Linked DNA regions of Homo sapiens. The protein of the gene in region 6 purifies or fractionates together with the protein of the main gene of each other region. This does not show direct contact. Each region holds a gene or a part of one and is shown on either strand. Other genes may lie near its edges. The genes, in order: PARS2, DLST, SERBP1, SUCLG2, AIFM1, DLD and FBXW11.

Region 1 (3,988 bases), on a different chromosome or scaffold from region 6:
TTGATGAGGTTTTTCCTGATCCTCCTATTTTAAATTGCAAACACTTGGCTGGGCGCGGTGGCTCACACCTATAATCCCAACAGTTTGGGAGGCCGAGGTGGGTGTATCACCACCTGAGGTCAGGAGTTCAAGACTAGCCTAGCCAATATGGTGAAACCCCATCTCTACTAAAAATACAAAAAGTAGTCGGACGTGGTGGGCACCTGTAATCCCAGCTACTCGGGAGGTTGAGGCAGAAGAATTGCTTAAACCCGGGAGAAGGAGGTTGCAGTGAGCCGAGAACGCGCCATTGTACTCCAGCCTGGGCGACAAGAGCAAAACTCCGTCTCAAAAAAACAAAGAAAAAAATTGCAAACACTTAACTCCCCCACTCCATTCTCCTTCTCTAATTTTTTCTTTATAGCCCTTATCACCATCTGACTGACAGATTCTTTTAAATTTTGATATTTTGTTTGCCATGGATTTTTTGCATTTTGTTTTTTTAAAAAAACAATTGTATTAAAATACTGTTTATCTTGGTTACTGAGTTCTTTGCTCCCATTCCCTGCCCTGCTTAAATTTCGCTCTATTGGTTTATTGACTGTGTCCTCTCTAGAACACAAGCTACACTGAACGCAGTTAATTTTGTCTGTTTGGTTCACTTCACTGTCCCCAGTGTCTACAGCAGTGGCTTCTACGTGGTAGCAGCTCAAAAAATATTTTGTGAATGGAAGTTTGAATCTGTGTCTTAAAGACTGTCTTGGGCACTGTAATAAAGGCGTCTTTCTCAAACTGTTTCACAATTTTATACTATTTAAATGGAAAGCCCGTAAAAATCATAGGATAGATTAGAAACTACACTGCCCAGTGTGTCGTCATGGTTACACTGTCGCCAGTGGTTCTCCTATTGGGGGAGTGGGCGGGGCCTGGCAGGGGCAGGAAGAGCACCCTCAAGTCATCATAGAGTTATACCTCCCAAGTTCCTAGAAAGTACTTCCGGAACGGTGATTTACTCAAGGCTGCCCTGGCCAATCAACGATCTTGGGGAAAGCCGGGTACTCGCTCTTTGGCTACACTTCCGGAAAACCTCTCACGCGCGCCTAGCGTGGGGCGGGGCCAGAGCGCCCCTGCCCTCGGCCCCGCCTCCGTGAGCGCGGCTTTGCAATTGGCGAAAAGGGCAGGAGGCGGGGCTTAGGAGCGGGCTTGCTCGAGGCGCAAGCGCGCTGGCCCGGCACGGCGGTGGTCTTGCGGGAGGCGTGGGCTGGGATTGCGGTAGGTGAACGTGGGTGACTCCCAGACCTGAGGGACGGGCGCGGGCAGCGAAATGAAGCGAGCACGCGGTGTGGGCGCGGAGACCTAGGACCCTGGTGTCCGTTTTCCCACTTGCATCCCGTCCTTGAGTTGGGGCGGGCGAGAATCCCATAAACTTTTCGATACTCCTGGTCTCCGTGTCCTCCGTTGTAAAATGAGGGCAGCACTTCCTGGTCTCTCCCTCGGTCGTCGTGAGAGTCACACAGTTCTCGAAGTGCCAGCTCTGGAAAGGCCCTGGGACCACCTGCTGCCTGAGCCAGCCTTCCCGTTTTATGTTGGAGAAAACGGAGGTCCGGGGCGAAGTGAGTGGTCCAGGGTCACCGAGCGAGTGAAGGCCGAGCTTGTTCTTAGAACTAGGCCTAGGGTTCCATTGCTGTTTAATGTAGCACAGTTCGTGATGGAAACTGTAGGATTTGGAGGCGGGGACCTTGCCTTCCAGGCCCGACCCTGCGCTTATTTGCTGTGTGGCTTGACACAAGTGACTTTATATTTCAGAGCCTCCCTTTTCTGAGTTGGGCATAATAATAATAATAATAGCACTTTGTGAGACTTAATATTATGTATCAGGTACGGTTGTAAACGCTTTAGGTACAACTTTTCTGATTAGATTGGGGGGCAATGGTGAGTCAAAGAATCTTTAAAAAGGCCTGGGCTGGAAGGGCTGACAGTGTCCCGACAGAGTAGGTACTCAAAAAAATCGACTGAATGTCTCAGAGGCTGTTTGCCAGAGCCTGAAGTGTTGCATACGTTAGTTACTGTATTGCTCCTGAAAAACTGAGATAATTCTACTTATTCTCCTGTTTGTATAAGCTGAGGGGTCTGAGGACAGACATGCTAAACGTGGAGGAGAAGAGTTTAAAGCTCTCGTTTAAATTATCCAGATAATTATATCATTGCACCTGTTTGCTTTGCTCTTAATTTATTAACATATTTGATCAACAGATAATAATAGCCTAAATAGTAGGCATTATGCGAGACTCTGAAATTTAAAGATGTATAAAACTTCATAAACTTGTAATTTCATCAAGGAATAGAATGTTAAACATCGACACTGACCTCCCCTCCTGGCCCCCGTACACACCCCCAGAAAGAAAAAAAATTGTATGTGAAACACCATTCGCTTCCAATGCCTGGCACACAATAGTTCCTCAAAAATATTTTTGGAGATGATTCTAATACAGTATACTAAAAAGAGGTGTGTGCAGTGGAGCACAGAGGAGGTGACTTTCTCTGTTTAGAGGGGTTGGAGAAAGTTTCTTGGAGTAAGTGAACCTTGAATTCCAGTTGGAATTGCTGGGGGTTGGGGGGAGGTCAGTCTGTTTCAAGAATAATGAGCAACTTGGGGAATGCTAGGATAAGAAGCTGGAAGAGGTGTGTTGGGATCAAAATGTGAAGAGCTTTGGTGCCATTCTGAGAAAATTATGAGAGCCAGCCGTTAATGGATTGTAAACAGGGGAGTGATTGGGTCAGCTATCTTTTTAGCTGGAGACTAATACGGAGACTGGACTGACAGGGTTCAAGAATTACTCCATTCATTCATTGATAGAACATGTATTGAGCCTGGGCACAGTGGCTCACACCTATAATCCCAGCAATTTGGGAAGCTGAGGCAGGTGGATCGCATGAGGCCAGGAGTTCAAGACCAGCCTGGGCAACATAGCAAGACTCCATCTCTATTTTTTAAGAAAGAAAAAAAGGAACATGTTATTGAGTGTCCACTGTGTCCAGGCACTGTGCTGAATGCTGCAGATAAAACTTGGAATAAAATAGACATAGCTGTCGTCTTCATGGAGTTTAAGACATTAGTCATTGGTGGTACACAGCTAGACCCCTGCAGTGGTTCTCCCAGTGGGGTCCCTGGACCAGCAGCATCTGTGTCACCTGGGAACTTGTTAGAAATACAGGTTCTCTGCCCACACCCCAAACTTACTAAATGAGAAGCTCTGGAGATGGGCCTCTGCAATCACTGTTTTAACAAACCCAACCGGGCATGGTGGCTCACGCCTGTAATCCCAGCACTTTGGGAGGCCGTGGCGGGCTGATCACTTGAGGTCAAGGAGTTTGAGACCAGCCTGGCCAACATGGTGAAACTCTGTCTGTACTAAAAATATGAAAAATAGTTGGGCATGGTGGCACATGCCTGTAATTCCAGCTACTCAGGAGGCTGAGGCAAGAGAATCTCTTGAGGCTGGGGGTACGGAGGTTGCAGTGATCTGACATTGCACCACTGCACTCCAGCCTGGGTGATAGAGTGAACTCTGTCTCTAAAAAAAAAAAAAAAAAAACAAGCCCTCCAGCGATTCTGATGCTCAATTAGATTTCAGAACCACTGGGTAACTGTAATGTAGCAAGTGGTATTGAGGGGCTAACCTAATGTTGAGGCAGTAAGGGCCAGAAAGGAGGGGGTGGACTTAAGGGAAACCTTGAGACAGACTCATTTGCTTTAGGAGGAATCAAGGATGAGTTTCTGGCTGGAGCCACTGCCCTAAGTAAGGTTGGATCACAAGGAAGTTATAGAGCCAGGGGTGAATCCACATGTGCCTTGCCTCCATGGCCCGTACGTTCCTACAACACCACACTAGGGCTCTGTGGCAGTGCCTGACCACCTTTAAACATTTGTACAGTGCACAGGGGAAATGAATGAGGCTGCTTGAGGTTGGAGGGGACAAGCTGGAGGACCTGAGGCTGCTAGAGGTAA
Region 2 (3,500 bases), on a different chromosome or scaffold from region 6:
GCCCAGGGTACAAGCCATTGTGCAAGGTATAATGGAATTTCTGCCCTCAAGATAACAGATTTAGATCAGATAAGGCAGCAAGATTAACAAGGTTAACTCGGAAGTAAAACAAGGTGTTATGCCAAAAAAAAAAAAAAAAAACCCAAAAACAAAAAAACCACACACAAACCCCATATGGTATCTCCTACTCGGTTCTCTTGCTAGAAAACAGCACATCAACACATTCTGGATTCATTCAAAACGAACCTCAAAGACCAAGGCGTTTACTGATATGGCCTTTACAGTAAATAATATAAACTGGAGAATCAGCTCACCCTGTATGCACAAAGCCATTAACAGTGGTTACCTCTGAGGGGTGAGAGATGTAGACATATATGGTATCTCTGGTTATGTGTTGCACACTTACACAATTTGGGAGAATGATTTGGATGGGGACTTTCACTTTTTACACTTCAGGATTGTCTGAATATTCCACAACAAGCATTTTTATAATAGAAAAGTAAAAGAGATTTAAGTTGTCTTTAGGTATTTTTACTTTTATAATGTCAAAATAACTATAAGGTCTATGTATAACCAAGAAAAAATGAAGATATTTAAAAACTACAAGAATACAAATTGTTCTACATATAGTTTGTAACCTTGTAAAGTACATGCCTATAGGCAAGAACTAACAGGTAACATGCAAGTGCAGAGGCTGCTCTGCAAGTCATCCAGGAACCCGGAGTGGTGGCCACCACTACCCAAGAGGCATTCGGGGGGCTAGAGGACAAGGATAAAAAAGTCTTCTCATGGACACCCTTTTTACTTTTTGAATTTTTAATCATGTAAATATAATACTATTAGTAAAAACATAAAACCAAAAATTGTTTTACAATAAAAGATTTATTAAATAAAGTGGGTACCTTATTCACAAAAAAGGCACAACACACACAAAGATACTGGATTAGGGTGACATGATTGGGGTGATCCCACACAAAGTTTACTTTTTCTTCATTATTTACTTTCAAATATTTAGTGTATTTATTGTAGAGAGTCATGATTGCCCCAATTTTCATTTGATTGCAGATGAGTAATACATTTTGAATCTCTAAATAACTAGATGTTCACTACAGAATATTAGAAATAGCAAAAAGAATACTTACAATGGGATCATACCACACAGTAGAAAATGAAATTATTTTGTAACCTGCTTTTTCCCACTTTTCATAGTGTGAACATGTGAACATGCTATAGTTTAGCCAATCCCTTGCTCTTTGCCATTTTAAGATAAATCTGATAATATTTATATTATCAGATATTAAATCTGAGATAAATATACCAGGAGTTCTTCAGTATAGATTCCTAGAGATGGAATTGCTAGATGAAAAGGAACACACAGGCCGGGCAGTGGCTCATGCTTGTAATCCCAGCACTTTGGGAGGCTGAGTCGGGCGGATCACCTGATGTCAGGAGTTTCAGAGACCAGCCTGGCCAACAAGATGAAACCCCGTCTCTACTAATACAAAAATCAGCCAGGTGTGGTAGCGTGCGCCTGTAATCCCAGCTACCCAGGAGGCTGAGGCAGGAGAATTGCTGGAACCCGAGAGGCAGAGGCTGCAGTGAGCCGAGATCGCGCCACTGCACTCCAGCCTGGGTGACAGAGCAAGACTCCATCTTGAAAAAAAGAAAAAAAGAAAAGGTACACACACTTCAAAGACTTATGACTATCAAACTGCCCTCCAAAATAACACCGGGATTCATATTTCTAGTACTGAGTGCAACATTTACTCAAATTTTAAAAAATCAGCCAGGCACCATAGCTCACGCCTGTATCCTCCACTTTGGGAGGCTAAGGCAAGTGGATGGATTGCTTGAGCCCAGGAGTTTGACACCAGCCCAGGTATCATGGCAAAACAACCCCATCTCTACAAAAAATACAAAAAACAACCGGGCATGGTGGCATGTGCCTGTAGTCTCAGCTACTCAGGAGGCTGAGGTGAAAGGATCTCTTGAGCCCAGGAGGCTGAGGATGCAGTGAGCCAAGATCAGGCTACCGCACTCCAGCCAAAGTGGCAGAGCAAGATCCTGTCTCAAAACAACAACAACAAAAACCCTCATTGTGATGTAGAGTAAGTAAGAAGCTCATCCGCTGACCTCTTCACTTTGAGGATTCTCCCTGTAGAGTAAGCAGCCTGACAGCTGCTGAACAGGTTACTAGAGAGCATTCTCTTAGCACCACCACAAAAACACTTGGAATGCAAAGCAGCATTTAAGCAACATTCATACGCAGAAGTTAATCTGAAACACACATGGGTAGCCTTTCTCCAAACTCTGCATTATGCAATAACAGCATTCCCTCCAAACTAGTCAGTCAGTCCCAGGACTCAACCAGTTTTATGCTTTTACTGTTTTTAAAAATGAGTAACTATGCTACTGAGAGGATGCTCTCAATCTCCACAATAAATGTAACCTCGAGCCTTTCAGCTGCACTTACATCCAAACAGAATATCTAGGAGCACCCTTCTATATCCCATAAAAAGAGGATTCCAACTTAACTTTCATTATAATCCAAACACCTGTGGAGAGTGGGCACACTCCCAGTCCAAAACCTGACACGGAGCTGATGCTCAAGGAACATCACATGGGAAAAGTGAACATTGAGGTTAGTCTAGGGACTCAACATAATCACCTCAATTTCTAGGTCTGGAGGCCAGTGAAGAAATCAGATGGTCAAATTTAGAACTTTATGTCTTTAAATAAATAACCCGTGGCCACATATCTGTACTCCCCAGTGATACTTACACAACCTTCCTGCTGTTAGGGTAACCTGGTCCCTGGCATAAGGAGACCCCTGCAAGAAACAAAATAACTCTTAACCAACAACTCTTATCTCACAAAGGATACATGCTGGGAATGGAAAAGGTCTGCTCACCCCCAACCCTGAGACAGAGCAGGATCAACGGCAACGGATATAATCTTTATCATAGAGTCCTGCTTCTCAAACTTTTCCAAAGTAGCCTTAGTGGCAGAGAGCAAATGGGTATGTGAGATCGAGTGGGTATGTGTTTGGCTGGGGAGGAAAGAGAAAAAATTTGATGGCACAGCCCAAAGTGATTATATAATCTCATCTACCTTAAAAAGCCAGAACTTTTCATTATTCCTGTATGTTTTCATAATAAAATGTCTCTACTCGCCAAGTCTTCAAATACAACTGAAGCTTGAGAAAGACATGGGATGGCTTATCCTGTGACTATACATAACCCAATTTGAGAAGCAAGGAGGATGTTTGGTCTGGGTTTGAAAAGATTGGGTTGGAAATCTTATCACCTGAATCCTAGTAGCAAAGACTTGGCTACTTTAGGCTCGGGGTCTCCAGTTTGTCCTAGAGCTGAGAAAATCATGTCCCCATCTTTCAGTTTATTGACTTCCCATGCCTTTCTGAAGTCTTCCACCCTGGTCACTCTCAACAAGGTGAGAGACCCTTTCTGCCCACCAGCTGTCCTTATCATAGTTAACTGCAT
Region 3 (3,046 bases), on a different chromosome or scaffold from region 6:
CGCTGGGATTACAGGTGTGAGCCACTGTGCCTGGCCAACAGTAAGATTTTTTTAGAGTTCTGTCTTAATGTAGACACTAGCTAACAATGTAATTTTGAAGAACTGAGAACTGTGGTTAATTTTGGTTTTTCTTTTTCAGTCAAGTGCTTCTGCTCCTGATGTGGATGACCCAGAGGCATTCCCAGCTCTGGCTTAACTGGATGCCATAAGACAACCCTGGTTCCTTTGTGAACCCTTCTGTTCAAAGCTTTTGCATGCTTAAGGATTCCAAACGACTAAGAAATTAAAAAAAAAAAGACTGTCATTCATACCATTCACACCTAAAGACTGAATTTTATCTGTTTTAAAAATGAACTTCTCCCGCTACACAGAAGTAACAAATATGGTAGTCAGTTTTGTATTTAGAAATGTATTGGTAGCAGGGATGTTTTCATAATTTTCAGAGATTATGCATTCTTCATGAATACTTTTGTATTGCTGCTTGCAAATATGCATTTCCAAACTTGAAATATAGGTGTGAACAGTGTGTACCAGTTTAAAGCTTTCACTTCATTTGTGTTTTTTAATTAAGGATTTAGAAGTTCCCCCAATTACAAACTGGTTTTAAATATTGGACATACTGGTTTTAATACCTGCTTTGCATATTCACACATGGTCAACTGGGACATGTTAAACTTTGATTTGTCAAATTTTATGCTGTGTGGAATACTAACTATATGTATTTTAACTTAGTTTTAATATTTTCATTTTTGGGGAAAAATCTTTTTTCACTTCTCATGATAGCTGTTATATATATATGCTAAATCTTTATATACAGAAATATCAGTACTTGAACAAATTCAAAGCACATTTGGTTTATTAACCCTTGCTCCTTGCATGGCTCATTAGGTTCAAATTATAACTGATTTACATTTTCAGCTATATTTACTTTTTAAATGCTTGAGTTTCCCATTTTAAAATCTAAACTAGACATCTTAATTGGTGAAAGTTGTTTAAACTACTTATTGTTGGTAGGCACATCGTGTCAAGTGAAGTAGTTTTATAGGTATGGGTTTTTTCTCCCCCTTCACCAGGGTGGGTGGAATAAGTTGATTTGGCCAATGTGTAATATTTAAACTGTTCTGTAAAATAAGTGTCTGGCCATTTGGTATGATTTCTGTGTGTGAAAGGTCCCAAAATCAAAATGGTACATCCATAATCAGCCACCATTTAACCCTTCCTTGTTCTAAAACAAAAACCAAAGGGCGCTGGTTGGTAGGGTGAGGTGGGGGAGTATTTTAATTTTTGGAATTTGGGAAGCAGACAGCTTTACTTTGTAAGGTTGGAACAGCAGCACTATACATGAAATATAAACCAAAAACCTTTACTGTTTCTAAATTTCCTAGATTGCTATTATTTGGTTGTAAGTTGAGTATTCCACAGAAAGTGGTAATTATCTCTTCTCTCTTCCTCCATTAGAAAATTAGGTAAATAATGGATTCCTATAATGGGAGCATCACCACTTATTAAAACACACATAGAATGATGAATTAAAAAAGTTTTCTAGGATTGTCTTTTATTCTGCCACATTTATTGATAAACAGTGAAGGAATTTTTAAAAAATTTTTAAGAATTGTTTGTCACGTCATTTTTAGAAATGTTCTACCTGTATATGGTAATGTCCAGTTTTAAAAATATTGGACATCTTCAATCTTAAACATTTCTATTTAGCTGATTGGTTCTCACATATACTTCTAAAAGAAACTTTTATGTTATAAGAGTTACTTTTTGGATAAGATTTATTAATCTCAGTTACCTACTATTCTGACATTTTAGGAAGGAGGTAATTGTTTTTAATGATGGATAAACTTGTGCTGGTGTTTTGGATCTTATGATGCTGAGCATGTTCTGCACTGGTGCTAATGTCTAATATAATTTTATATTTACACACATACGTGCTACCCAGAGATTAATTTAGTCCATATGAACTATTGACCCATTGTTCATTGAGACAGCAACATACGCACTCCTAAATCAGTGTGTTTAGACTTTTCAAGTATCTAACTCATTTCCAAACATGTACCATGTTTTATAAACCTCTTGATTTCCAGCAACATACTATAGAAAACACCTGCTACTCAAAACACAACTTCTCAGTGTCATCCATTGCTGTCGTGAGAGACAACATAGCAATATCTGGTATGTTGCAAGCTTTCAAGATAGCCTGAACTTAAAAAGTTGGTGCATTAGTTGTATCTGATGGATATAAATTTGCCTCCTAGTTCACTTTGTGTCAAGAGCTAAAACTGTGAACCTAACTTTCTCTTATTGGTGGGTAATAACTGAAAATAAAGATTTATTTTCATGCTCACTTCTTAAAAGTCATAAAAACAATCAAATAGGATCATGTTTATTGTCATGTGTTTCCTGGTTTCTGACCTGTGTGCACACCCCTGTGTGTTTATAATTTTTAAATTGAATTTTATATGGGGTTTTTATTTGCTAAAAACCAGGCTGTTGAATCACATTTGGGAAGGGTACTTATCTTAATGACTAATGACTTAATTGGGAAAGTTGAATTCTTGTAAAATACAAAATCCAAGGACTTCTTGGATTTAATCTGATTGTCACTTCTTAGCAGATCACTTTTTTGATAATGAAAGTTAAGCATACTGAATGCTACTTTTGATTGACAAACTGGCTATAATAGTCTAGGGGAAAAATCCCTAAACAGATAAAGATTCCTAAAGTAATGGTGGCAGCTGATGTTTCAGTGAACTTTTATCTTGATGCGTTTAAATGGAAGTAATGCCAGACCTGAGATTTTTAAGGCATTTTTACAGCTTGTATTGAAATGATTGGAGACATGGTTTCTTTATTAGCTATTTTGAGACCTGTGGAGTTAAGCAAGACTTTTAAAAATTGGCACCATATACATCTAGTTAGTTCCTTTACTCTTATTTTTTTAAATAAAAGTAGTACACATCATTTCCAGGGTTGTAAATATATTTGGGGCTTGTTTTTGGTATGGATTTAAAAGGAGGATATTAAGTATTCATTCTAATTT
Region 4 (3,500 bases), on a different chromosome or scaffold from region 6:
GATAAAGGAATTTTGTTTTAAACCTAAATTTCAGAAGAGTTCTGCATATTAATACTGAGTTGAGCAGCAAAGGTTCTAATTTTTTACTAAGCAAAGTTTAACTGAGATGTTTTAAGTCAATATTTCTCAGTTGGGGTGATTTTTGCATACCACAGCCATTTGGAACTGTCTGAAGACATTTATTTTAATTTATTGATTTACATGGGTTTATTTGTCTTCACAAGTGGGGGTTGTTAGTAGTATCTAGAGGTTAGGATGCTAAACATCTTATGATGTACAGGACAGTAAAGAATTATCCCACCCAAACTCCCAATAGTGCCAGAGTTGAGAAATTCTGCTTTACACCAGTGACCATTAATCAAAACAACTTTGAGAAGAAACTTGGATACTTTCCTAAGACTTTTCAGCTACAAAAAAACTTATGTGCTTACTTCTTCTTGGTAAGTGACATTTCAGAAATCAAGGTTTCCTAAATTCTATAAGAATCCACAAAGCATTCTTTTGATATAACTGCTTCTTACCAAAGCAGGCAATGTTCCCATCTAGTCCTATGTATTTTAGATCATATTTGGCAGCTTCATTTTCAATGGGCTCATTCTCTGATTTGTCGTCCATAGCAAATATGTCTTTTTGTCGGAATTCTGCGTTGTCATCAAAGTTTATCTTGGCATCAAAACAGACAACTAAATAAAGAAGAAAACAATCATACTTGAATATCTCTTGAGGATCTATAAATTAAGTTCTTCAGGCTGGTAGGCACAAGCGAAGGGAAAGTTAAGTACTGTCATTTTTTTTCACATGTTACAGGCAGGAGAGGCTGCTTTGGCTTTCTTGACCTTTAAATTTTAGGGTTTGGTCCCTGTTGTCAAGGGACTTACGTTCTAGTAAAGAACATAGTAATTTCTACCTGTTGTTCTCATTTCAATAGAATAACCCCAAAAGTTGCCATCAACCATTAAAAGTTACAGACTGGCACAGCTTCATAGATACAGCTTTGATTCATTATTTTTATTATATATTTTTAGTATTTAACCACTAATTATCACCTTTCTCTTCTATGTAAAGAGAGACTAGACAATATTATTAATTATTTTGTCCCCTATTGTCCTTTTCTTGATATGGTAAAGTGAAATTTTTATTGAATCAGTATCCTGTCTAGTATTTCCAAAAGATTTAGTGGAAAGAATGCCAGACTAGAATCGCTCGATTTTTATTTGATCCTTAACTAACTCTGTAACATTTATTAAAAATAAAAATTGTATACACTTGAGTCTTGAACAACATGGGTTTGAACTGTGAGGGTCCACTTATAGCTGGATTTTTATTCTCAAGATGTAAAGCCCCAGAGGGTCGACTTTTCACATACATGGGTTCTGCAAGGCCAACTGCAGGAATTGTGCAATATGAACGAAGTTTGGTATATCTGAGATTCCTGGAACCGATTCCCTGCATATATTGAGGGACAACTGTGTATTTAAAGCATACAACATCATGTTTTGATATACATATAACACAGTGAAATAATTAAACACAGTGAAATGATTACTACACTGAAGCAAATTAACACATCCATCTTCTCATATAGTTTTTGGTTTTTCTTTTTGGTGTGGGAGAGCACTTAAAATATATACTTTTAGCAATTTCCAGCATACATTACTAACTCTGTAACCTTGATAAAATAACCTAGTTCTTCTCTGGGCCTTGGTTTTTTAATTGGAAAAAATGGCAATAACAATCCTTAAAACAAGGGCCATGCCCTTGATTCGTGCAGGACCATCTTATGGTGCTTCAGATTCAAGTTATAAGACACGAAAAGACCAAGACTGGTCAGTCACAAAGCCAGGATGCCAGGCATTATTAGCACAATTGTCTCTAGTTTCTGGAGCTGGTGGAAATCTCCTGGACCCAGCAAAACTCATTCCATAATAGGAGACAGACTACAGGGCACTTTCCTTGATTTACAGATCTCCTATACATACAATCAGGGAGAGACTGCAGTGGAGAGGGTGGCATTATTGGTATCTGGGTATCTGACCCCTTTTATTATCTCTCTTAGTGTAGAAATTAGTGTTCTGTGATGCCATGTCATCATAATGTTTGTTTGTTTGTTTATTTATTTATTTATTTATTTATTTCGGAGACAGAGTCTCACTCTGCTGCCCAGGCTGGAGTGCAGTGGCGCAATCTCGGCTCACTATAACCTCCACCTCCCAGGTTCAAGCGATTCTCCTGCCTCAGTCTCCCAAGCAGCTGGGACTACAGGCATGTGCCACCATGCCCAGGTAATTTTTTGTATTTTTAGTACAGATGGGGTTTCACCGTGTTAGCCAGGATGGTCTCGATCTCCTGACCTTGTGATCTGCCCACCTCAGCCTCCCAAAGTGCTGGGATTACAGGTGTGAGCCACTGCACCTGGCCAATGTTCTTTTACTTAACTTGGGATATTGATAGCCAGGAATCTTTGAACAATAATTTACAGATACTACCTATTCTCCTCCAGCATTGCTGACAGGCACCTGACTCTTGAAAGGGAAACAGCCACAGAACATTTCTCACTCACTGAAAAGCAGTGGCTATAATCTCCTAATTATACTTGCTTCTTATGAAAATAAAACATGGCTGTATATGGCATCTTGGCGTTAGAGACCCCAGGTAGAGGGTTTTCTCCAAGGGTTTCCCTACCACAATATTCAAGCACTTTGATACAAATCTGTGTAGACCAGCATATTAACATCTAAGAATACTTGTTATAAGTATATATATAGACCGCACATGACTTAAAGTAGCACTGAGCGACAAGAGAGAATCTTATATGGAAGTTAATGTCTGCTTAAATCCTTAGTCTTGCCCCAAAATGCCCAACCACTTTGTCCACACATTGTGAATGGTTGGAGTGAATGAGTAATTACTTTCCAAAATATTGAAAGCTTATTGACAGAATCCTACAATTACCAAACGAATTGGCCAATGTTCTCTGCTTGCTACAGGGGAATTTTCTCAGCAGTTAATGACTGGTATAATAATCAATAAAAAAGCAACTTCGTACATGGCTTTCCACTAGGTTTATAAATGCATTCTAATTAATTTATTAGTAATTTTAGCTCCTCCATTACTCATTGGCAAGACTACTTATAACTGACACCTTCAAAATGAATGGGCTAAGGTTATCAAATTGACTTCCTAAGGGAAGAGTTTCAAATAAAGGAATTCTTGGTTGAGATCAATAAACAAGTAAATCAAAATAGTTTCAAGCTGACCTTTGCTCCTTACAAAGACTACAGTTACAAGCTGCTTCAGAGAGAGAATAATTAATGGGTATGTATTCAAAGTTCAAAAGGCAATCCCAACTAAATGCCTGCAAAGCTAGATTTTCAGAGGATGTTTTTCTGTGGTATGACGTTCTCTCCAGGGAACAATCTTGACAGAACTTTGCAGTTAACCCAGAGCTTCAAGATGGTGACTATGGGATAAAAGGGGTGTATATCTACAACGGTCCTGTG
Region 5 (2,990 bases), on a different chromosome or scaffold from region 6:
CCGTGTCATTCCTTACAGTCCCTTGACAGAACACCCTCTTCTCTCTTCTTAGGAGTGATTTGGGCCCCGATGTTGGCTATGAAGCTATTGGTCTTGTGGACAGTAGTTTGCCCACAGTTGGTGTTTTTGCAAAAGCAACTGCACAAGACAACCCCAAATCTGCCACAGAGCAGTCAGGTAAGAAAGTCCTAGCACTCCTCTTGGAGAGTGTTGAGAAGCAGTGGTCCAGATTCTCCTGAACAAGGGGTTTCTGTATTGGCCAGAGGGGCTTGTCAGTGAAAGCCTCTCTTCATGTTGTGCTTTAAAAGAAACCAAACCCCAAGTCCTCACTCTTTAGTGGTCTGAGATTTGGCAAAATCAGGTATCCTGGTCAAAGCATAGATTCAAATATTGTGGGTATCTGTCCTAGACAGTGGACAGTGGCTAGCTCAATGACACTGCTGTTTTGTGTGTCTCTGGGAAGACCTTTCTAAGGAAGAAAACAAGAAAACCTGAACTTTTTAGATTGCGTTTTTATTTTTCTTTCTTTCAGTTGTCATTTTTATTATTTTGCTTCAGGCGAATCTCAAGAACACGGCCTGATAGGCTTAGCTTAAGACTGGCTATCCTCCATGGGTCCTGCGCAGGGAGGAACTGGGCTGAGTAGTTATTTAGCTGCCTCCCATTCCATTTGGCAGATCTTAGTGCCAGGTTTTCTTTAGATGGGAGGCACCTCTCTTGGAATGGACTTCTCTCCCACACATGTCTCTTTCATTAACTCCGAGACCTTATTCCTTGACCTTAGCTCAAGTTATTTAACTTCTGCATCCTTTTGCCAGAGGTGTCTCAAGGGCAAGGTGCTGTTTAAGAAGGAGAAAGCAAGACATTATATGGATATGTAGGTCCTTTTCCTGTGTAATTCTAATGTATTCCATATTCCTTAATTCTGATCTCTCCTAGTAACCTAGTAAGTGGATTCATGTCACTGCTTTGTCGACTGGACAGTATTATTTGGAGGCTGGTGGTTCTCAGCAAGGTGCCCCCTTCCTATGCCACCCTTCCCTTCCCCTCTTTCTCTAGGAAGAAATGCCTCCACTATGGTTTTTCCAAATGGAAGTGCCTTCTGCTTTGTCTAAAGTACCTGTCTAATAGCACTGTCCAATAGAACTTTCTGCTGCGATGGAAATGTTCCATCTCTGCTCTGTCCAGTACGTTAGCCACCAGCCACATGTGGCTTTTGAGCTCATGAAACATGGTGAGTACAGATAAGGAACTGAATTTTACATCTTACTCAGTTTGAAATGATGTTCATTTACATGGCTGTGGCTAGTGGCTACTGTATTTGGACCATGCAGCTCTAGAATTATTTCTTAGAGGACAAGAACCAGCCTTCTGCAGTTTGAAGAAATCCAGATACCAGGAAATATTCATAGCATGAATTTAAAATGAGATAATAAGGGAGGGAAGTTTAGGGTCAGACTGACCCTGTGCCCAGGAGCTGGCAAGGAAGACCTTTCCTTGGCTTTGTCACTGGAGAGGGGCTGGTGAAGGCCAGGGTTTACTGAGGGGGCATAGAGAAATAAATCCTCTAGAAGTAGCTTGAAGCAGGCCTCGAAAGACTGTTGGCTTCTAGAATTTCCCAAGCTCATAATAACTGAAGTTTTGATTTTGCTTCCATGTTTATTTGTTTTGGGGGCTGGCCACAGGAACTGGTATCCGATCAGAGAGTGAGACAGAGTCCGAGGCCTCAGAAATTACTATTCCTCCCAGCACCCCGGCAGTTCCACAGGCTCCCGTCCAGGGGGAGGACTACGGCAAAGGTGTCATCTTCTACCTCAGGGACAAAGTGGTCGTGGGGATTGTGCTATGGAACATCTTTAACCGAATGCCAATAGCAAGGAAGGTAGGTGCCTGTCATAACTCTTAGAGGAAGATGGGAAGTACGGCTTAGAAACATTCCTGTAACTTCATCGGGTGCCCTGAGATGCATTGTCCCCCGGCCAGGTCAAATTGTGCCTGAGCAGAACAAAGGTATAGCCTTGGCTCAGGAACATTCTTTTTCACTTGGGACTTGGCTGGGTGACCTGGGAGTTGGCAGGCTGCTTGTTTGGGGTTAGTAGAGAACTGTTCCCACAACTCCCTCCCAGTGTGATATGGGGACTGCCCCAGGTAGCCCCATTGTGTGGGCATGGCCTGAACGCAATGGAGTAAGTTAGGGACCTATTGTTACTCTCTCTCCCTCAGATCATTAAGGACGGTGAGCAGCATGAAGATCTCAATGAAGTAGCCAAACTATTCAACATTCATGAAGACTGAAGCCCCACAGTGGAATTGGCAAACCCACTGCAGCCCCTGAGAGGAGGTCGAATGGGTAAAGGAGCATTTTTTTATTCAGCAGACTTTCTCTGTGTATGAGTGTGAATGATCAAGTCCTTTGTGAATATTTTCAACTATGTAGGTAAATTCTTAATGTTCACATAGTGAAATAAATTCTGATTCTTCTAAATTAAATTCTGTTCTCTTGTCAAGGGGGCAGGTGGGTGAAGGTGGAAAGCCACGCATATTAGAAAGCAAGCAAATTGCAGCACCGACCAAGCACAGGATTTTTCTCAGCCATGTATTCATGCCCTACTCCAGACGCAAAACTCCTTTCATTTCCGAACTTCCCTCACCCCTCCAGACCTCTTTGCACACACCTGCTGTGGCCTCGGCCCACAACACTTGACTCCCCTCCTCTCCTCTCAGGAAGTTCACTATCTCTGAAGACTTTCCCAGCCTTCCAAGCCTCATCCTTGTGTATGTGTCTCCCTGCTAGCCCATGACTTCCTGGAAGCAGAAGCCCTGATGTTAAGGCCTTGCTCATGGTTTTATCTCCAGAGCTTAGCACAGGGTCTGCTTCATAGTAAGTGCTTCATAGATCATTGTCGAATGAGTGAACAAATAAATGTATGGAATAGACTTTGTTTACCTGGAACAACTCCTGTCCCAGAACTGGATTGGGTCCTGCAGGG
Region 6 (3,500 bases):
AAAGGTAATAGGTCTTAAATTTATTGGAAATACTAAAGCATTATATAAAATTATCTTATTTAATTCTAACATCAATCATTGAAGGCAGTGTTTTCATCCCCATATTACAGAAAGGTTAAGTCATTGGGTCAAGTTCATACAACTACTCATTGGCCGTGCTGAGATATGAAGCCCAGAATGTCAGATTCCAAAGCTCAGGCTCTTTGCTTCATACATACTTGTCTTCCAGTATCACTAAATTCCGTCAGTTATTAAATCAATAGAATTTAGGAAGGTCAGTGAATACAATGTGAGTGTTACAGAACTCAGTTGTGTTTCTGTATGTTGTAATGAATAGAAAATAATAGAAAATGAAATTTGAGTATTTATGCCATTTTTCAGTAGCATCAAAGAGCATCAAGTAGTAGTAATAAAATAGTGCAGAAACTATGTAGAAAATGCTGATTTGTACTGTAAGAGGTTTAAGTATCGGGTTATTTGTTTGCTCTTCCAAAGAGCTCTTTTTGGTAAATATTAAGCAATTTACTATTTTATATCAATTTGCTTTTATCGTAGTTGATGCTGATGTAACAGTTATAGGTTCTGGTCCTGGAGGATATGTTGCTGCTATTAAAGCTGCCCAGTTAGGCTTCAAGGTAAGGTTTGAACTCAAACTAAGTATTGATTTATTTTAATTTGGGAAGGGTTGATCATATTTATAAAGTACTTTGCAGGCAAAAACATGGTAAATACTTCCTTAACTCTATAAATTACTTGTAAGCCTGAGACTAATAAAGATTAGGTTCATTTGGTTGTAGTATTCTCTTGGAATGGAAAGTGAAATCTATTAGTTTTCTTCTCTTCCCAGTACTTTTCATTTTGGCATCTAATCACACTTTGGAAGATACAGTGATAGAACTAAAAGCATATATTTGGTAATGTTAAGCACACAAAAATATCTTTTAGAATAATTCACTTTTGGGTCAGCCCAAAAGTGTTTATTATTATTCAAATGATAAATTATAAAGGACTATATATTTTAGTCTGTGAAAACATAGCCCGAATAGCTTGTTTTGTAGAAGAATTAAGACATATATTTGGAATTTTAGTGATCTGAAACATTGAGGTTATGTGCAGTTAAATAATGTTTTCTTTGGTTGTAGACAGTCTGCATTGAGAAAAATGAAACACTTGGTGGAACATGCTTGAATGTTGGTTGTATTCCTTCTAAGGTGAGCATGTGTTTTGTACAGCACAGAGATTGTTTTTGGCTAGCAACCAACTAGAAGGATGGATTGAGACTAGATTAGACAAATACACTTGTTAAAAAACAATCCAAGTTGTGGCACATTTCACACAGAGAAAAAAAAGAATGATAAAAAACACACTTCTCTTTTGTAAAACTTAAAGAGTGCTGTCACTAGTCTGCCACACATTCCTGAAATAACTTCCTTGTCTCAGAATGCCTAGCTTTCCATTCAAACAGACTCTGATGTTCTAGTTTTTTCTCTTTATCTTTCCTTCACCAGTGTAACAGATAATAGATAGTAAATTGTTCTTTTAGGTCCTTTTTGTATGTAAACATGACTGCCTTTTTCACCTGCCACCCTGAAGTGTGTACTTATGCCTTTACTTTTAAAGAAAGTAAAAATGTCTTTTTCATTCTTGTTTGTTGAATGTTTTTCACATCATTATTGTTTGTCTTTGATTAATAAGAGAAACTGAATTGGTGTAGTGCCATATACTATTCCATGTAGAGAATGCCATGTCTTTTTTTTAACTTCTTTTTAAATTTTTATTGTAAATTGACAAATTACAATTGTATATATTTATGGCATACAAAGTGGTGTTATGATTTATGACTATAATGTGGAATAATTTAGTCAAGTTAATTAACATATTCATTACCACAGTACTTATCATTTTTGTGATGAGAACATTTGAAAGAGAATATCGGCCGGGCGCGGTGGCTCACGTCTGTAATCCCAGCACTTTGGGAGGCCGAGGCGGGTGGATCACCTGAGGCTGGGAGTTTGGGACCAGCCTGACCAACATGGAGAAACCCCATCTCTACTAAAAATACAAAATTAGCCAGGCGTGGTGATGCATGCCTGTAATCCCAGGGACAATTGCTTGAGCCCGGGAGGCGGAGGTTGCGGTGAGCTGAGATGGCGCCATTGCACTCCAGCTTGGGCAATAAGAACGAAACTCCGTCTCAAAAAATGAAAAGAAAGACTATCATTTCATAAGTGCTTTTTGATTATTTGAAGTCTGTTTATGAATATTTGATAATTTGATCTTTTTAATTTCCTTTAGGCTTTATTGAACAACTCTCATTATTACCATATGGCCCATGGAAAAGATTTTGCATCTAGAGGAATTGAAAGTAAGTATACTTTTCATGCTTAATGATATTACCAGACTGCTTGACTTGGCTCTTCTGTCTAAAGACTTAAATGTGTCTAACGTACGCATAATAGATGTTTAGTGAAGGAAGAGTAAAATAAATAATCTAAAAAATGTGGAGAGATTTACTTAAAAAAGAAGGCCTAAATCCAGATTTCTCCCAGCCAAGTATAACCAAGCCTAACCCTGCAAATCCAGATTTCTACCATTATATCTTCTGTTCCTTTGCCAACTTTTTCCTGAGGTTTGCCTTTATGTGTTTTTGAAGAGTCAGTTTTCATTTCCTAAAATCTGGAAATCACTGAGAAGGCTGGATTCCTGAGTACTATGGGGAGATAGAGGAAGGAAGGAAGGCCCACTTAAGCTGTTGATAGTAGAAAAATTAGAGGAGAGAAAGAGTGAGGCATAGCGGAAAAGGAAGAGGACATTTCATAACGTATCTTGTCTCCTGACATACTTTTTGAGCTGTTTTAATCTTTTGTCTCCAATTATTGTTGTTGTTAGATACTTCCAGAAAGGTAGTCTCTTCTGGGCAGGACCTAGTCATAACCTTGGGTTGTTACTTTTCCTTCATTTGTTTCTTTACAGAGGTAGGTTTGAGGGGCTACTTAAGGCAATCCATTGGGTATAGAGATGATGTATATGCACTAAAGCAAATAGAATATCATACTAGTTGAAAAATGGAATGACGTAAAGAAAGAAGAGCTAGGGGTAGTCAGGAGACCTGCATTGTAGGCAAGGCTTTTACATCCTAGCTCTGTGACCTTGGGTAAATCAGAAATCTCTCAGAGTCTCTTTTTCCTTATCTCTAATATATGTGTTGGTTATATGAGGTACTTTCTAAGATACCCTTCTTACCTCTAAAGTTTAATTGAGTTGAGCATTTTTATCTAATACTGTTGCTTCAGAGTTCTCTTCTGAGTTGAATGAGTGATTAAAACCTAGGTGATTAAACTTTTTAATGTTAAGCTTCTGTATTTGAAATTTTTAAACGTGTATTTTTTATTTGTTTTGTTTCATGAAATCTAGCATTTTCCTTTATTTAAAATTTCAGATGATGTTTTACTTTGTCATTTCTACTTACATATCTTCCAGACTTATAACCATCGTAAAGT
Region 7 (3,500 bases), on a different chromosome or scaffold from region 6:
GACAGAATAGAGAGATATGGACTGGGCAATGGCACATATAGATGACTACAGACCGGATGTCGCAGTGTGGGTGCCCTGGGCATATTGATGCGGCATCAGTGCTAGCTTGGAGGGAAATATTATAATAATAGGTACTAATAGCTAGTGTCATGGGTGCTGTCCTTGGTTCTGACCCGTTTAACGTGTTTGCCAACATGGTTTAACATGTTTGCCTTAGTACTTTAGCCCATCATGCAGGTCTGGTGTGGAATACCCACTCTTCTGGGTGTGACAAAAATCAGAATTCTAGAGACTGAAATGGATGGGTCAGACAAAGCTTTGAAGGTGAATTATAGTAAGGATAAATATAAACCGCACAAAGCTGCCCCCCACCTTTCCAACTAGCTGTGCAAATAGAGCATTCGGGGAAATTGTTTCAATAGATGTTTTTGGGGGAGAGGCCTGGGATTTTATTCTAACTTACTGCCATCTTAGGCGTCTTCTGTGATATGACTATCAGATGAAGGCAGTGCAGCCTTTGACCACATTAACTGTAAATGACATGCAGGAAAGGACAGTGGTCCCAGTGTAGTCTTTATTCTTAGACCATAGCTTGGGTCTTTGATCTAGTCCAGAGTAAGAGAATTTTAGTATATGAAGGACCTGGAAATTATAACCAATGGTATAATAATAGTCATTCTTAGAATTGAAGGAACTTTAGTTTGTAAAGCATTTTTCATGCATCATCTCATTTTGATATTTTCAGAATCAAGTAGAGATTATCGTAATCTTATACAGATGAGGAAACTGACTCTGAAAGTTTAATAATTTACCTACATCTGGCCTTTCAACAACCAAGTTTAGTGCTATTATACTACTTCTAATTATTTTGAGAAAAGAGAACAGATATTAACCTTGTAGAGTGCTTGTCTATAAAATGTTTTCATAAAACTGTTGAATTTGATTCTGACAGACAGTGTAAGAAAGGATAGTTGTTACTGGTGATTACCATTTTGTATGTTAGGGCACAAAAATTCAAGGCACAGGGATGTTTCAGTGTTTGTTTCATGTCATAGAACTAGTAAGTGGTGAACCTGGGACTTGAAATGGGAATTTTCTGATGATAAGTTCTGTGTTCTCGTCCCTACACAGAATAAGCTTGGGGAGAAGCTTTATTTCTTGCAACTGTAGAAGACATACTTACCGCCACAGGATGGGAGTTTACAGGTGGCAACAGTGGTGGCCATGTTGATCATCTTCCCATTGTGAATGTCAGGCAGAGGCTGAAAGTGGTTTTCTTTGAGAGTATCCTTGTATCGTGGGAGGTTGAAGCCAATGACCTCTAAGATTCTAGGATTTGTAGACATGGGGCTATTGCTTTTGAGGATTGTCCCATCTGTTTAGGAACAGAAAATGGATACTCACGAAAGGGAGATGAAAAGATTGACAAAAATACATTTAAGCACAATCGACTTTAATTCTTGGATTGCCATTTAACTTTTCATAAGTTTTTCAAGATGAGTCGGTGTTTTGCCTTTTTTGTCTTCTGATCTCCCAGGGATTCACACCGGGTATGGATTAATGGGGATATGATTTGTTATGAGAGACAGTGAGTAAGATGGGAATGAACACAAACTTTGAAGCAAGAAATCCGAGTTCCAGTAGTAAAGCCAAGGGAGTGTAAAATCTTGAGTTCTTTACCTTTCTGTGCTTCATCTGTCAAACTTGGGGCGTCATTGCCCTATAGGAGTGCTGTGAGAGTTATATAAAAGAAAATGAAAAGTCTTATCTTAATATTTGACAAATAACAGAACTGTCCAAGGTCAGCTTTTACACACAGAGAAGAGTTGCTATCAATTGTTTTATCGTAAAAAATCAGAACCAAAAAGAAGTGTATATGTTTATGTACTCATGGATTTGAGTATCTGTAGAACTTTTGATATGACTAAAATATTTTACTTGGTTCAGGATTTCTTTATTCCTCTTATCTTTAAGGAAATGATGGCTGGTACCTTTCTATCTCTCTTCCCGTTCCTTCATTCCCTTTTCTGTTTTGTAGAGCAAGGCTTAGATCACATAGCAGAAAACATTCTTTCGTACCTGGATGCCAGGTCTCTGTGTGCAGCAGAGCTGGTATGTAAAGAATGGCAGCGAGTGATCTCAGAAGGAATGCTTTGGAAGAAGCTGATTGAACGAATGGTACGCACTGATCCCCTATGGAAAGGACTTTCAGAAAGAAGAGGGTGGTAAGTACTTGGGTTGCTTGTTCCCTTGAAAAAATTTTATTGACATAGAGTCAGCTTGATTACTCAAAAATGCAATTATACTTGCAAATGTGCTGGCCTATTTTTAAAAAGGGGGGAAAATGAGTGGTCAAAAGTTGGAAGAAAAAGTTAAAGCTGTTAAAATTTCTCCCTCTGAAATGTGTATTTCCTTTATGAACTGTATTATATAGTTTGATGGGATTTGGCGTTTCAAAGCTATGTATTTATGTTTTTTCCTTCACATTTTGCTTAGTTGATGATACCATTACCAAAATATAGATATGACAAAAATATGAGAAAGTCAGATAGTGCCATTTTGCTGTTTGTTATTACTGCTGGTTGAGGAAGTAATAACAGTGATAGGATTTTTCAGAGAAAACTCATAACTCTGATGCAGCTTTATAGCTAGCTGTATGCTGTATGGCCCAGTTAGCAAAGAGAGAGAGCTACAGACAGAGGTGCATATAGGGCTGTATTTTCCTTACGGGAGGAAGTTTGATGTGTACTAAGTTAGATTTTTCACAAAGCTACATTAGCGCTTTTTATTAAACTCTATGGAATGAAAGGCTAGATTGTTACATATTAGTACTCAGAAAACACGATCAGGATTTTGTTAGAGAGCTGTGAATTGAGCTAAACTTGTCTGTAACATGTAAATTTGTCAGAAATCCTGCTTTTGAACTGTTAAAACTCAATGCAAATTAAAAGACATGAAAGATATATCTTTGTCAGCACCATGTTTAGATAAAATTCACCCTTTTATGTGCAAAAATGTAACATCTGTTTGTTTTTATTTGCCAGGGATCAGTACCTGTTTAAAAACAGACCCACAGATGGCCCTCCAAATTCATTTTATAGGTCATTATACCCAAAGATTATCCAGGATATAGAGGTAACTTTATGATTTATCTGTTTTATGGGCTCTTTGTTTCTTGTTCTCAACTTTTTATGTTGCCTTAGAGTGTTCTTTTGGTCTAAAATCGTAGAACTAATAATTTTTTTTAAAAAGTTGAGCTTTTGGAGTAAATGTGTCATGTTGTATATAATCTGCAGCTATTCTGCAGAGAAAATAATGTCTTTTGCAAAGAATATCTAACTTTTCTAAAACATGAAATGCTTCTGCAAGGCTGCCGGTTAATTCAAACCTTAATCTAAAATCATCTTTTTATTCTAAGCTGATAAATTTTCCAAAATCCAAGGCCCCGTTTTTTTAAGTAAGCATTGTTTTACATTTTTGAGCCATCTCTAGAGAACTAG

Evidence for each region.
Region 1: the proteins of DLD (region 6) and PARS2 purify together in Homo sapiens (affinity purification with mass spectrometry; 3 studies listed by BioGRID and IntAct, with this or other methods). This does not show direct contact.
Region 2: the proteins of DLD (region 6) and DLST purify together in Homo sapiens (affinity purification with mass spectrometry; 5 studies listed by BioGRID and IntAct, with this or other methods). This does not show direct contact.
Region 3: the proteins of DLD (region 6) and SERBP1 purify together in Homo sapiens (affinity purification with mass spectrometry; 2 studies listed by BioGRID). This does not show direct contact.
Region 4: the proteins of DLD (region 6) and SUCLG2 purify together in Homo sapiens (affinity purification with mass spectrometry; 2 studies listed by BioGRID, with this or other methods). This does not show direct contact.
Region 5: the proteins of DLD (region 6) and AIFM1 purify together in Homo sapiens (affinity purification with mass spectrometry; 2 studies listed by BioGRID, with this or other methods). This does not show direct contact.
Region 7: the proteins of DLD (region 6) and FBXW11 purify together in Homo sapiens (affinity purification with mass spectrometry; 3 studies listed by BioGRID and IntAct, with this or other methods). This does not show direct contact.

What each region holds. Positions count from the first base shown.
Region 1 is NC_000001.11:54,761,724-54,765,711, reverse strand, and holds the start of PARS2 (probable proline--tRNA ligase, mitochondrial precursor), read left to right. Parts: upstream 1-1,188; 5' UTR 1,189-1,251; intron 1,252-3,988. UniProt on the Homo sapiens protein: Mitochondrial aminoacyl-tRNA synthetase that catalyzes the specific attachment of the proline amino acid (aa) to the homologous transfer RNA (tRNA), further participating in protein synthesis.
Region 2 is NC_000014.9:74,884,916-74,888,415, reverse strand, and holds part of DLST (dihydrolipoyllysine-residue succinyltransferase component of 2-oxoglutarate dehydrogenase complex, mitochondrial isoform 1 precursor), read right to left. Parts: intron 2,831-3,500; coding exon 2,782-2,830; intron 1-2,781. UniProt on the Homo sapiens protein: Dihydrolipoamide succinyltransferase (E2) component of the 2-oxoglutarate dehydrogenase complex. The 2-oxoglutarate dehydrogenase complex catalyzes the overall conversion of 2-oxoglutarate to succinyl-CoA and CO(2).
Region 3 is NC_000001.11:67,410,357-67,413,402, reverse strand, and holds part of SERBP1 (SERPINE1 mRNA-binding protein 1), read left to right. Parts: intron 1-139; coding exon 140-196; 3' UTR 197-3,046. UniProt on the Homo sapiens protein: Ribosome-binding protein that promotes ribosome hibernation, a process during which ribosomes are stabilized in an inactive state and preserved from proteasomal degradation.
Region 4 is NC_000003.12:67,497,613-67,501,112, forward strand, and holds part of SUCLG2 (succinate--CoA ligase [GDP-forming] subunit beta, mitochondrial isoform 2 precursor), read right to left. Parts: intron 684-3,500; coding exon 522-683; intron 1-521. UniProt on the Homo sapiens protein: GTP-specific succinyl-CoA synthetase functions in the citric acid cycle (TCA), coupling the hydrolysis of succinyl-CoA to the synthesis of GTP and thus represents the only step of substrate-level phosphorylation in the TCA.
Region 5 is NC_000023.11:130,128,862-130,131,851, reverse strand, and holds the end of AIFM1 (apoptosis-inducing factor 1, mitochondrial isoform AIF precursor), read left to right. Parts: intron 1-52; coding exon 53-177; intron 178-1,685; coding exon 1,686-1,882; intron 1,883-2,223; coding exon 2,224-2,295; 3' UTR 2,296-2,490; downstream 2,491-2,990. UniProt on the Homo sapiens protein: Functions both as NADH oxidoreductase and as regulator of apoptosis.
Region 6 is NC_000007.14:107,901,183-107,904,682, forward strand, and holds part of DLD (dihydrolipoyl dehydrogenase, mitochondrial isoform 1 precursor), read left to right. Parts: intron 1-555; coding exon 556-635; intron 636-1,142; coding exon 1,143-1,211; intron 1,212-2,295; coding exon 2,296-2,365; intron 2,366-3,500. UniProt on the Homo sapiens protein: Lipoamide dehydrogenase is a component of the glycine cleavage system as well as an E3 component of three alpha-ketoacid dehydrogenase complexes (pyruvate-, alpha-ketoglutarate-, and branched-chain amino acid-dehydrogenase complex).
Region 7 is NC_000005.10:171,898,639-171,902,138, reverse strand, and holds part of FBXW11 (F-box/WD repeat-containing protein 11), read left to right. Parts: intron 1-2,038; coding exon 2,039-2,225; intron 2,226-3,044; coding exon 3,045-3,135; intron 3,136-3,500.